3 separate regions of the Homo sapiens genome follow, and all the other regions are reported to be linked to region 1. Evidence: microRNA targets listed by miRTarBase, many of them from high-throughput screens and not tested one by one. Region 1 holds a microRNA gene; each other region holds the end of a gene's coding sequence.
What was found. Region 1 holds the annotated microRNA hsa-miR-759 (GCAGAGUGCAAACAAUUUUGAC, at 1,247-1,268, opposite strand). A microRNA usually pairs through its seed, bases 2 to 8, with sites in the 3' UTR of a target mRNA and lowers its output. Matches are read on the target gene's strand: a 7mer-m8 pairs with bases 2 to 8, a 7mer-A1 pairs with bases 2 to 7 and ends in A, and an 8mer does both.

Region 1 (4,213 bases):
CAATGCTGGATATTGGGCAAGGCAAGGAAGGATAGAGAAGTTGGGGAACAAAGATAAATAATATGCAGTCTGTTGCCTCCAGAAACATAAAGCCTATTTGCATAAATAACTGATTTAATTATAAGGCAAATGGAATTTGATACTATAAAGGAGGCAAAGATATGCGAAGGCAGAGGAAGAAATAATGAGTGTTATAAAAGGTAATCAAAAGGGGCAAGAGGCAGGGAATTACAAGGCTTCATGAAGGAGGCAGCCTCTGAGCTAGGCCATGTAGAATGCATACAATGTCAATAGGTGAAGGAGAAAAGAGAATTCTAGGCAGAGGGAACAGGACAGAAAAGACACAGATGGAAGTAGAAAGGCTATGAGTGACTAAGTTGGAAGTGTAGGTTGAGGTCAGGTTGTGAAGGACCTTGAATTGAGTTCTGCAGGCAGTAAGGAGTCACCAAAGATTTTTGAGTAAGGGAGCCAAGTGCTCCCCTGCCAGCCTGAAACAACTGGGTTACTTCTAAGAAGCAATGAACTATTAGCTGATGTAAATCATGCTATTTGGGGGCCTCTTTGCTGCATCAGCTTAGCCTTACCCTAACCAATAAAAAGGCCCTCATTTTACAAATGAGGAACCTGAAGCTTAGAGGAGACAAGTGACTTAACCAGCATCATGTTACCATAACTCTACCACGTAGAACCAGGGCCAGACAGGAAATCTGGGCCTAGATATTCCATAGCCCCAAAAGATGTGATGATGGTGGCGGTGGTGGCAGTGGTGATGGTAATATGATGGTGATGATGGAGATTTTTTGTTTTCGATAAACTGGTGTTTCAAGGTTTTGTTTTTATACCTCTTCTTTACATTTTTCTATTTTTTAATGTAAAAGCATGGAACAGATTCGCCATATAATCATTTTAATCAATTTTCTGCGGTGATAACTTCCCTGCAACTTAATTGGCAAAGTTGTTTCCCAGACTAAAAGTACTATGGCATCATCTAAAAGTCACCTCAAAGAGACAGAACAATTCATTAAAAACCACTAATGTCTGCAGGGTTTAAAGATGTTAAGTGTTCATTTGGAGAATGAGAAATCAACGCACATTGACTTTTGCCATCCGGGTTTGTCACGCTCTGTGTCCGTGGGATGACTCACATTGCTAAAGCCCAAGTTTAATTAACATGCTTATTCTGTGCCGCTACTTCCATTCTAACAAATTAAATGTTTAAACAGCCAGTGCAAACATTTAGATCTGAGTCAAAATTGTTTGCACTCTGCCAGTTTAGGCATTTAATTTATTATAATCCTTTCCATAATATATACTTTGAAAGTCATTCTTTTGCACTGAAAAATATTGTTAGTATTTCAACTGATGCTATTGAATCTGAGACTATCAGAATGTGACGTGAGAACTAAATTGGACTGCAAATAAGGCCAATAAATGAGATAATAAATGAATCCTCATCTATCCTAACTTCCTCAATTGACCAAGTAATAATAATGACAGGTGCCAACTCAGGCCTGACTTTTGTCCCATAATCTCTGCTCTTGTGGAGAGATGCTATAAGATGAGACAAGGATCTTGCAAAGCTCGTAAACATTTCTTCTTAAGAGCCTTTCCTGGATTCTGACCTCTTCCTCCCTGCAGATGTTTTTTCAACATACAGAATTTTGCTAGCTTTCAACAACTTCCCCTTCCCTGGGCTAAAGAAACTGAAAATGCAATGGAAGAGAAATTATAACAAAAGCTTCATTGACGCAATGCTGACTGCACTGATAAAGATCTCAGGCAAGCAGCCAAAGAAGCTAGACAGAGAGAGGTTCCCAAGGAATGACCCTGTTTGGCCCCAGGTGACCACAAGGTGGCAGTGAAGGTCTTCTTCACCCTCCCCATTGGCACCACCCTCCCAGGCCCCGACCCCCAGGCACTGTGCCTCTTCCCCACTGTCTCCCAGGGAAACAAATGGATACACCCAGATCTAAAAAGCTGACACTTTTACATTTTTAATAAAGATAACTTGTGTTTTATTGTGAATAACATGGAAACTGGAAAATGATTGAAAATTTCCCCCAATAGCCCTTGCTTGAAGAAAATGGAGCATGGCGTTGGAACCAAGAGGAAAATATTGTAGAGTAATAGATGCTGGTCATGCAAACTCATTAGATCTCAGCTTCCTCATCTACAGAATGAGAGGTTAGGTTCCTCTCATCCCTGAGGTTTCTTCCAGTACCCTTCCAGAGACAATAGCATGGATCAAACTCATCAACCAAGGGAGAGGGGTCAGTTTCAGGAGACACCAATTGGTTTGTTACTGTGTGCTAATCAAGGTCACGTGCCACTGAAAACCTGAATGCATTCACTCTCTGATTCTTCAGGCTTCCATCTCCTGCTCAGAAATCATTCAAGGTCTTCCACAAAACATTCCAGATTGTTTATACTTTGAGATTGAATTATATAGAGTCAAGCTTGGTCAGATTTTATAATGAAGCTATATCTACCCAAAAATTGGCTGGTGAAGGAAAGGAGGAAATCGTTGAATCTAGCCAATTTGTTGTTTCTGAAAGCAATCAACTCAGATCAATCCAGCTTTGTTTGTTTTTCCAAATAATGTAGGTCATTTAGACACACGATAGGGCTTTCTCCTAGAGCCACCTCAAGGAACTACCCATTCAAAAGGGCTTTGTTAAATGAGAATGGATGCCTGCACCTCAACACACGCTCACTATTTAAATGCCAGGAGGGTTAACTGAGAAGTAACAGACAAAAGTCTTCCCACTGAATATCTATGCTGAGGCATTTTTAAATGTTTTTAATGTCTAAGGGTTGTAATTAAGTGAGGCATTAATTAGCTTTTCTAAACCACTTTTTAAAAAGTTAATCATAATTAGCATTAATTAAATACTATGTTCCAGACAATGTGTTAAGCACATTATATGTATTACCTCATCAATTCTTATTCCAACCCTATAAAGAAGGAACTGATACTTCCCCAATTTTATAGATGCAGAAACTGAGGTTTCAGGAGATGAGGTCACCTATCCAGGTTCACACGGCTGAAAACCAGGTATGCATGCCTGATTGCAAAGTCCCAGCTCTCTCTTTTTTTTTTTTTCAGACAGAGTTTCGCTCTGTCGCCCAGGCTGGAGTGTGGTGGCAGGATCTCGGCTCACTGAAAGCTCCACCTCCCAGGTTCACGCCATTCTCCTGCCTCAGCCTCCTGAGTAGCTGGGACTATAGGTGCCCGCCACCATGCCTGGCTAATTTTTTTTTTTTTTTTTTTTTTTTTTTTTTTGGATTTTTAGTAGAGACAGGGTTTCATCGTGTAAGCCAGGATGGTCTCGATCTCCTGACCTCGTGATCCACCCGCCTTGGCTTCCCAAAGTGCTGGGATTACAGGCATGAGCCACCACGCCTGGCCACAAAGGACCCAGCTCTTGAAGGAAGTTTATCCAGCCCCAATTCCGTTTTTCATGTCTTCATAATCCCCGAGGATGTTTTTTTTGTTTTATTTTGTTTTTTTGAGATGGAGTCTTGCTCTGTTGCCCAGGCTGGAGTGCAATGGGGCAATCTCAGCTCACTGCAACCTCCACCTCCCGGATTCAAGCGATTCTCCTGCCTCAGCCTCCCGAGTAGTTGGGATTACAGGCGCCCACCACCACGCCCAGCTAATTTTTGTATTTTTAGTAGAGATGGGATTTCGCCATATTGGTCAGGCTGGTCTCAAACTCCTGAACCCAGGTGATCCACCCGCGTCAGCCTCCCAAAGTGCTGGGATTACAGGCATGAGCCACCACGCCCGGCTGATTCCTCTTTTTTACTGGCACCTGTGTCAGTATTACACATTTATAAGTATTTTAATATTTCTAAAATGAGACCAACTCATCAAAAATTTGCAGAGGAAATCCCCAACTCCTTATAGTGGAAAGAGTACCAGGGTCGCTTAGGGTTGCTCTCCATCTCTGTACCATTTACAAATAAATGCTGCTGGTCCCAGGCTCTGCATCAAATTTACCACCTAAGGAGATTCCACACTCTTCAAGGAATCCACCACAGTGGCCTCAGCTATCTTTGAACTGCCTTTCCTCTTGTCTTAATGCTCAATGAACACAGAGAACAGCCAACTTTTCCTTCTGATTCTGAACTTGAGGACGATCAAGAAAACACACGATTTTTTTTTTTTTTTTTTTTTTTTTTTTTGAGACAGGGTCTTGCTCTATCTCCC
Region 2 (4,213 bases), not on the chromosome of region 1:
TAATTTCTCCACAATCCCTGTTATGAAGGGCTTTTGACCTCTCTCAATCTCCCAACCCCAAGAACCCACGGTGGAACCCTGGAGAGCTGAATTGGGAACAAGGGGACTTGGTGGTTTCTCTGCTCTGCTTTTGATGCCACTAGGTCAGCAGACAAGTAACAGAATTTCTCTGAACCTATTTCCTCATCTCCAAAAGGGACTGCCCCTATCTTTGCCCTGGTGACCCCACAACCTTGTGACGTGTAAGGGGCCTGCAAAGGTTTTACTACCAGAGAGGCTCTGTCATTGGGCAAGGGCTTTCTAAGGAAAGGGGCTGGTGTGGGGACAGAGAGGTGTTGACAAGGGCCTCCAATGGGGGGTGGGGAGGTTGGGGAGGGTGGCTGGCACCATCCAGAGACAGCAGAGACAAGGCCTGGCAGGTCCAAATTTGGACCACCTTGGCCGGATGGTGGCTCACGCCCACAAACCCAGCATTTTGGGAGGCCGAGACAGGCAGATCACTTGAGGTCAGGAGTTTGAGACCAGCCTGGTTAACATGGTGACACCCCATCCCTACTAAAAATACAAACAAAATTAGCTGGGTGTGGTGGCACACACCTGTAATCCCAGTTACTCAGGAGGCTGAGGCAGGAGAATTGCTTAAACCTGGGAGGTGGAGGTTGCAGTGAGCTGAGATTGTGCCATTGCACTCCAGCCTGGGTGACAGAGACTCCATCTCAAAAACAAAACAAAACAAAACAACAAAAAACAAACAAAAAAACCCAAAAAACAAATTTGGACCACTTCATCCCTAGGGACCTCCCCATACCCTTTTCCCCAAAGCAACAGAACAAGTCAGGGTTCCATTGTTTCTCCTACACCTTGTCTTCCTTCTGTAGAAATGACTGGCTGAAGTGTGCACTCTGGAATCATACACTACTTGGTTCAAACTCTGGCTCTGCCAGTTAATTGTGTGCTCTGGGGGTAACAGCAGTAATGACCTCAGAGAGTTTTTGTGAGGATTGACAGAGAGAACGCACATTGACTCCTGGCCTGTGGTTTACATTAAACAAATTAGCAGGACCCACTATCAGACCAAGGAATTCTTCCTCCAACGGGTGGTGGGGAGAGGATGTGGGGCAGTGGGCTCCCTTCTCCTTCCATCCTTCAATGCTTAGCTCAAATCCACTTTTTTTTTTTTTTAAAGAGATAGCATCAGCCGGGCACGGTGGCTCATGCCTGTAAACCCAGCACTTTGGGAGGCCAAGGCAGGCAGATCACCTGAGGTCGGGAGATCGAAACCAGCCTGACCAACACGGAGAAACCCCATCTCTACTAAAAATACAAAATTAGCCAGGCGTGGTGGCTCATGCCTGTAATCCCAGCTACTAGGGAGGCTGAGGCAGGAGAATCGCTTGAACCTGGGAGATGGAGGTTGCGGTGAACCGAGATGGCACCATTGCACTCCAGTCTGGGCAACAAGAACGAAACTCCGTCTCAAAAAAAAAAAAAAAAAAAAAGAGAGAGAGAGATACGGTCTCACTTTGTTGCCCAGGCTGGACTTGGACTCCTGGGCTCAAGTGATCCTCCTGCCTCAGCCTCCCAAGTACTTAGGGACTACAGGTGTCTAAATCCCACCTCTGAAAGGAAGCCTGCCCTAGCCACTTGTGTGCTCTCTGGGCTTCAGTGATTCCAAAGTACAGAACTAGAAGTAACTTTGAGGTTGTGTAGTACAAGCCCTGCATCCTAACAAGGGAAAGTGAAGCCCAGAAAAGGCAAATGGCTTGCCCAAAGTCACACAGCTAAGTGATGTGTCTTTCAGTCCAGAGTCCACTAATACAGAATTTTCTAGAAAATAAGAGTCTTCCTAACTCTGGCCATGGTTTTTTATTTCTTGCTTGCCAACTTATCTTTTGGTTTTGTCTCTGTTGGAGCAGAACCTGGAATTCTGAGTGCCCCATGGCATCAGGGACAGATTTGGGCACACACACACACACTCAAAAGTACGTGCTGCTGGCAAAAAGCCCTGGAATTGCTTGGATTTTCCATTAGAGCTCTTGAAGAGTTGGGGCAAATATCCTTTTCCCACTTGAGACGGAGTCTCACTCTGTTGCCCAGGCTGGAGTGCAGTGGCGTGATCTTGACTCACCGCAACCTCTGCCTCCAGGGTTCAAGCCTCCCCAGTAGCTAGGATTACAGGTGCGAGCCACCACGCCTGGCTAATTTTTTTGTATTTTTAGCAGAGACAGGGTTTCACCATGTTGGCCAGGCTGGTCTCAAACTCCTGACCTCAAGTGATCCGCCTGTCTCGGTCTCCCAAAGTGCTGGGATTACAGGCGTGAGCCACCACGCCTGGCCAGCTGGAAGCTTTCAAGCAGCCAAAGCCCACGAATAGAGCAGGCCTTTCGGCCACTGTAGGGAAGACACAGTCAAGGGAGACCTGAGCAGCTAGCAACTGGCACCTTGCCTGCAGATAGGACCAAGCCCCTCCACCTGCCTAGCAGGCTGGACACCTGCTGTGCGTGCTTTCCCAGGACTGGAGGGGATCCAGGTTTCTGGCCAGTTACATCACTTCAGGCCTGTAGTCCTGGGTGGGAAGCTATTAGGATGAATAGCCTTCTGTCGTTCCTTCCTACATACTCACCCTGGCACTGGAAGGTGGCCCCAGTCTGTAGCAGGCCCTGGGGAAGCAGGAAGTGGTGGCGTACAGAGAAGTGGTATGAAGCAGAGGTGGCAGCCCTCACCTGACCAGCTCTGGCGAAGGGGTCAGAGGGGTCCACTGCACCCCACTAGGAGAGCACCAGAAACAGTGCCGGGAGAACCTGGGCCTGGCCCAGTTCAATGCCCCTCACTTCCCAATCCCCACCCCTCCCCCATCCTCCTTGGAAATAAGAGAGAGGAGCCTGGCGAGGGGCATGTCATCATTTTAATGATGTGATCTTTGGTGTTTCCCTCATTAGCTGTAGACTATCCCCTCTCCTCCCACCACAATGTTTCTATGATGAGTTACAAACAGAAAGGAAATCACATTTTCATACTAAAAACAAAATGATCAGAGCCTTGATTTCTCCACTAGAAACTACACGTACAGTTAAGAGTCCACATGCAACACCTTAAATCACAGACTGAGACCTCACATTCTGACCTGGAGTCTCCTCCCCTTCCCCAGCCTTGGGCTAGCTTTGGCCTAGGCTCAGGTAATACTGACACCCACAGGCGCTGCTCTGAGGGCCTTGCGGGGAGAAGACTGGTGGACAAGCCCTGGGGGCTGGCCAGCCTACACCCCCCACTCCTGAGTGAGGACCTGCCCACTGTCCCTTGACCCCATCCTGTATCAGGCAAGCAGGCGCCCCCTTACCCCACAGTAGTCCCCCATTAGTAAATGCCGAAGTCCCTGTCCTCAAGAATCTGGGAGCCTGGCCCGATCCCTGTTGGTTTCAGTGGGGTAAGACGACGAAGAGAGGCTGAAGCTCTGGAAGGCTCAGAGTTGGAGGTGGTGTCTGGGTTCCTGGTGGCTCTGCCCACCCAACAGGTGGACAGGGCAAAGCTGCCTCGCGGGCCTCTGTCCAGGATGATTGGCCCAGATCTGGAAGACTGTTCACTCTCTGGAGGCTCTCTGTCCAGGGCTGAGTCCCCTGAGCCCATGTTACTAGGAGAAAGTGGGGTGCCTGGCAGAGATACCCACTTGTTCCTCTATTCACATTAAGCCCACAGTGTGGCTCTCCCGGGCTCCAGATCCTGGAAGGTTCTAGTTCCCCGAGGCAGGCCTTGCCCATTTGACTGTCTTGTGCCCACTGACTGATCTTCCTCTCCACCCTGACCCTCTTCCTCCTCCTGTTCCCTGATGCAGCCAGCAGCTCTTCCACATGTCCAGTTCCCAGTCAGCTGTGAGGTCCGGTTTCTGCTTGGCGGTTCGAGGGGAGGCACCAGTGCAACGTTTGTCTCTACCTGTTCCGTGGTTCTCCCCTAGGGCCTGCAGCGTCCCCCCTGCTGCTGCCACCATCCAGAAGGTGGTTGTTATTGGTCAACTCGCAGTGGAGGGTTGGTCCCTCAGCGCTGGGAAGGGAAACAGGAATGGGGACAGGGGAGGAAGAGGGCAGGGTTGGCTGGGTTGGCTCCCGCCCAGGGGTACCAGGCTGGTCCCAGGAAGCTGTCCGGGGGCTTAGGCCTCGCTCTGCCAGTTGCCCGGCCTCTGGGAGCAGTCCCCGAGAGGTGGAGGGCTGGGGTGAGGAGG
Region 3 (4,213 bases), not on the chromosome of region 1:
TACCCGGCAGCCCAGCTTGGACCCAGGGGTGCTGCGGGTTACTCCTGGTCCCCACAGAGGAGCATGCCACCCCGGCCGGGCTATCCTGGGACCCCAATGGGTGCCTCTGGGCCTGGGTACCCCTTGCGGGGAGGCAGGGCCCCCAGTCCTGGTTATCCTCAACAGTCCCCATACCCCGCAACAGGAGGAAAACCTCCCTACCCAATACAGCCTCAGCTCCCCAGCTTTCCAGGCCAGCCCCAGCCCTCAGTGCCCCTGCAGCCCCCTTATCCCCCCGGGCCCGCCCCTCCCTATGGGTTCCCACCACCGCCGGGGCCTGCCTGGCCTGGGTATTAGACACACTCCTGGCCCTCGGCCCCTCCCTAGTCCCACCCACGCTCAACCTTTGGCCCAGCCATCGCCGAGATTCGAGGGTCAACTGGAAGTGGCGTTGGTGCTCCCTGTGGACTTGCGTCGGCACCCAGAGGCCTTGGAGGGACAAGGCACTGGGCGGTGTGACTGGTCATGGCACTTGCTGGCCTTCTGGCCAGAGGTCCTCCTGGAAGCCCCTCCTTTCAGTGCCTGGCTGCAGCGGTGCTAGCCAGGCTGGAGTCCAGCACCTCTCGCCGGTGTCTGTGTGAGTGAGCGCATGTGCGCATTTATGAGCATCTACTTGCGGCTGCACTCAGGGCCATTTGAACCCAGTGCAGAGTTATCTCTATGAGGAGGCCCCGGGTCTCCAGCCCCCTCCATCTCCCCTGGGGTTTGGCATATTTGACATGGAGCCCCATGCCAAGGGATGCAGCTGTTGGTGTCTGTCCAGTCCATTCAAGGCTAGCCTGCCCATGCACTGTGGCAGGGGTTGGATTGGAGGGAGAGAACAGAGTTGGGAAAAACAACAGGTTTGAGTCCTATAAAGCCATAATTTAACTCCAGTAGCTGATGTCAGACAAGCTTGTCCTATGTCCTATTTGAGTGGCAGCAGCGCCAGCCCAGCAAGAAGGCTGGGGGTTGTCAAGGTTGTCCCCAGACCTTGCTTGCAGTGGTTGGAGAACCCAGGGGGCTGCCTTGGGCCCTCTGGCCAGAGGGAAGCGGGCAGCTCTAGCCCTGGAGATTGTGGTCACATTGGGGCTTGTTTAGGATTGGAGGGCCAGGTCACCTCCCCAGCCACCCTCCCTTCTCTCCTCTGGGGTCCCCACTTTAGGGCGACTTTGCCCGAGGCCCACGCATCCATCCACTCCTTTAGTGCCTTGAATCTCATTCACAAGCAGCCCCCTCCCTTCCCCTCCCCTTCTCACTCTGTTGATGTAATCCTCCCACCCCCAGTGTCCATCCTAAGACAGGCATCAAAAGAGGCCCTAACTTTACTTCCCAAATGGTGCTTTTTAAAAAACACCATCACTACATTAGGGGCAATTTTTTCACACCTCCCTGTCTTCAGAATGTAAAGGGTGGGGATTATGTCTCTGTTTAATATGCAGCCCCCTGCACTGTGGGGTTTGGGGCATGTTCAGTAATAAGAATGAATACAATAGACAAAGGGGGTGTGATGAGTGTTAACTTGGTTGTTCCAGAGGTAAACCAGGTCTCAGGGAAGAGCCTGGAGCTGCTATTGCTTAGGAAGTTGTACGTGCCTTGAAATGTCCACTACCTGAGGACGCAGCATCTGGTGGGCCCGGGGCTGCTGGGGCCAAGGAGGGACCTTGACCTTCTGGTGCCTGCCCCTCCCCGGCCTATGTGCCATCCGCGTGACGCTAGGTCAGCGCTGCCGGTTCTTTACCAAATGTGCTTGCTTCTCCTAAGTTATTTATAAAGAGAAATCACTAATGGACTCTACTGGTTTGAGTGCTTCTGAGCTGGATGACCGACCGCCTGTATGTTTGTGTAATTAATTGCCATAATAAACTTTGATGAGTCACATGTGGTGTGGTGTTGCTGGGTTTGAGTGAAGACGTGGCTGCATGTGGGTGCCTTGAACTCTTCTGCAGCCTTCAGATCGTGCTCTCTGGAGGGGCCTCTGTGATTCACATCCCAAAGCCCCATCCGTCTGGATGTCAGCCCTCCCTTGCCCGCTCGCCCCAGGGCTGGCCCTGGGAGTATTTACCTTCCCTCTCCCGCTCTTCCGCTTTCTTTCTTAGCCGTTTTCCTATTGGAGCCTACGTTTGCCTGGTCCTGGACTGAGAGCAATGGCATGCAAGGCCACAGGATGCCACGAGGGGGCGTCTGGTCCTCAGCCTGCTCGGGAGGTGCTGCGTTCCTGCCACCTGCCGGGCTGGCGGGATGTCGGCGTGTGGGCCTGTCTGTGAGCCATCTAATTCTAACCTGGGCTTGCAGGATGGGCTCAGAGGAACAGCAGGCCGCTAAACTGGCTGCGGCACCAACAGTCTTCTAGGCCTTGGCCCAGCCTGCCTCCCTCCCCAGCGTCGCCTCTGCTGCTGAGCTGCCTATCCCGAGGCCAGGGAGGGCGTCTTCAGCTCAGCAGGAAGGGCAGCTTGGAGGGAGTCTGAAGACCAGGCTTCTAACAGTCCCTCATGTCAGCCCTCCGCCTCTCCTTCCCCGCAAGGTGACCGGGCGGCCACCTGTGGAGGATGCCTAGAGATGCCCTGAAGTCGCTATGGCTGCAGGCTGTACTGTGCTTTCAGGCGCATTATGTCCTGGAGTCCTCGCAACAGCCCTTTCATCCCCAGTTTAAATGGGAGGAAACCACAGGGCAGGTGGTTCGGTGAGCGGGTTGCACAGCCTTAGGAGGAGGTGGGACTTGGACTGGGTCGGTTGGATTTCAGAGGCTGCAGGGGCTCCTTCCCCCTGCCTTGGTGGTGCCAGAAGTGCCTCCCGAGGACAGAGCTGAGAGTCTCTGGGCTCTGGTCAAACGTTTACTGCCCTTCACCCCCAGCTGAACTCTGGCTTTGCCTTGCAGGTGTCCAAGGCTGAGGACACAGGACATCAGGGACAGCTGGAAGCAATTTGGCTTTGTAGGAAGAGGCTGCAAATCTCCCTCTAGGCGCATAGTCAGGTCACCTGCCTTGGGTTGGTGCCAGAGTGGTGGCAGGGGGCACGGAGGGGCTGACTTTCTAAGAAAGGACCATCATGAGCTGCCTCAGCTGGTCAGCCCGCGTGTCCCACCCTGTGCTCTTTGCTTCCCCCTCTCCCTGGCCACCTCACCTCAGAGGGCAGCACACACAGGCGCTCCTCACGCCTCCCTCCCTGCATCCCTGGGAGATCACTGGCTGCTTTTCACCAGACTACAGTGGGCCTCCCGCTGCAGGGGGACAGACCCTGAGCATCAAATTTAGAGTCTCAAGAGATTCCTAGCTTAGGACACTTTGCTCTGCTGGATGTGGTGAGGCCATATAAATGTCATGTCCTTACAGCTCTCTGTTCCGCTCTGTACTCCCAGATCCCTGGGTGCATGATAACTTTTTTTTTTTTGAGACAGAATCTCACTCATCTGGCTCCCAGGCTGGAGTGTATTGGCGCCATCTCAGCTCACTGCAACCTCCGCCTCCCGGGTTCAAGTGATTCTCCTGCCTCAGCCTCTTGAGTAGCTGGGATTACAGGTGTGTGCCACCATGCCTGGCTAATTATTTGTATATATATGGTTTTTTTGGAAAAAAAAAAAAAAAGCCTGTTGCCCAGGCTGGAGTGCAATGGCAAGATCATGGCTCACTGCAGCCTTAAACTCCTGGCCTCAAGTGATCCTCCTGCACCAGCCTCATGAATAACAGACTATAGGCATGTGCTACCATGCTCAGCTAATTAAAAAACTCCTTTTTTTGGTAGAGCTGGGGTCTCACTTTGTTGCCCAGGCTGGTCTGGAACTCCTGGCTTCAAGCAATCCTTCCACCTTGGTCTCCCAAAGTGCTGGGATTACAGGCACGAGCCACCATGCTTGGGCACATGGCAGTGTGAAAGCTAGACTTTTTGGTCCTTGGTATCCTTGACCTAATGTGCTAGAATCAGGGGTTGCACGCCCACTCATTGGCCAGGTCACATGATTTACGCAGGAACATAATTTACGGAATGGGCAGGGTTTGAGGGACACACAGGTGAGTGGAAGGGCTGGCCCTGCTCTAGCAGGTTGCTGGGATGCAGGAACGGGGAGGTTGTCCAGGTCACGGCAGCGCGTCCTCTACCAAGGGATGTGGACACCAGCCCCCGAGCACTGGCTGGGGGAGCAGTGGGTTGCCTTCACCAGCCAAGGCAGGAACTTGACAATGGCACGTTGAAGACTAAA

Region 2: miRTarBase lists AMBRA1 as a target of hsa-miR-759. Seed matches in the 3' UTR shown: 7mer-A1 at 3,461-3,467.
Region 3: the mRNA of VPS37C is a reported target of hsa-miR-759. Seed matches in the 3' UTR shown: 7mer-m8 at 1,275-1,281.

The regions. Positions count from the first base shown.
Region 1 is chr13:52,807,128-52,811,340 of GRCh38, reverse strand. It overlaps MIR759 (microRNA 759), which reads right to left and starts at 1,291; the gene lies at 1,201-1,291.
Region 2 is chr11:46,393,527-46,397,739 of GRCh38, forward strand. It overlaps AMBRA1 (autophagy and beclin 1 regulator 1), which reads right to left. Exons shown (of 18, transcript NM_001387011.1): 18 at 2,888-4,213. The coding sequence ends at 3,924. Among named protein-coding and RNA genes, the nearest start is that of CHRM4, 3.9 kb to the left of the region's middle. RefSeq lists an enhancer at 1-38.
Region 3 is chr11:61,127,943-61,132,155 of GRCh38, reverse strand. It overlaps VPS37C (VPS37C subunit of ESCRT-I), which reads left to right. Exons shown (of 5, transcript NM_017966.5): 5 at 1-1,899. The coding sequence ends at 336. Among named protein-coding and RNA genes, the nearest start is that of CD5, 28 kb to the right of the region's middle. RefSeq lists an enhancer at 2,065-2,359.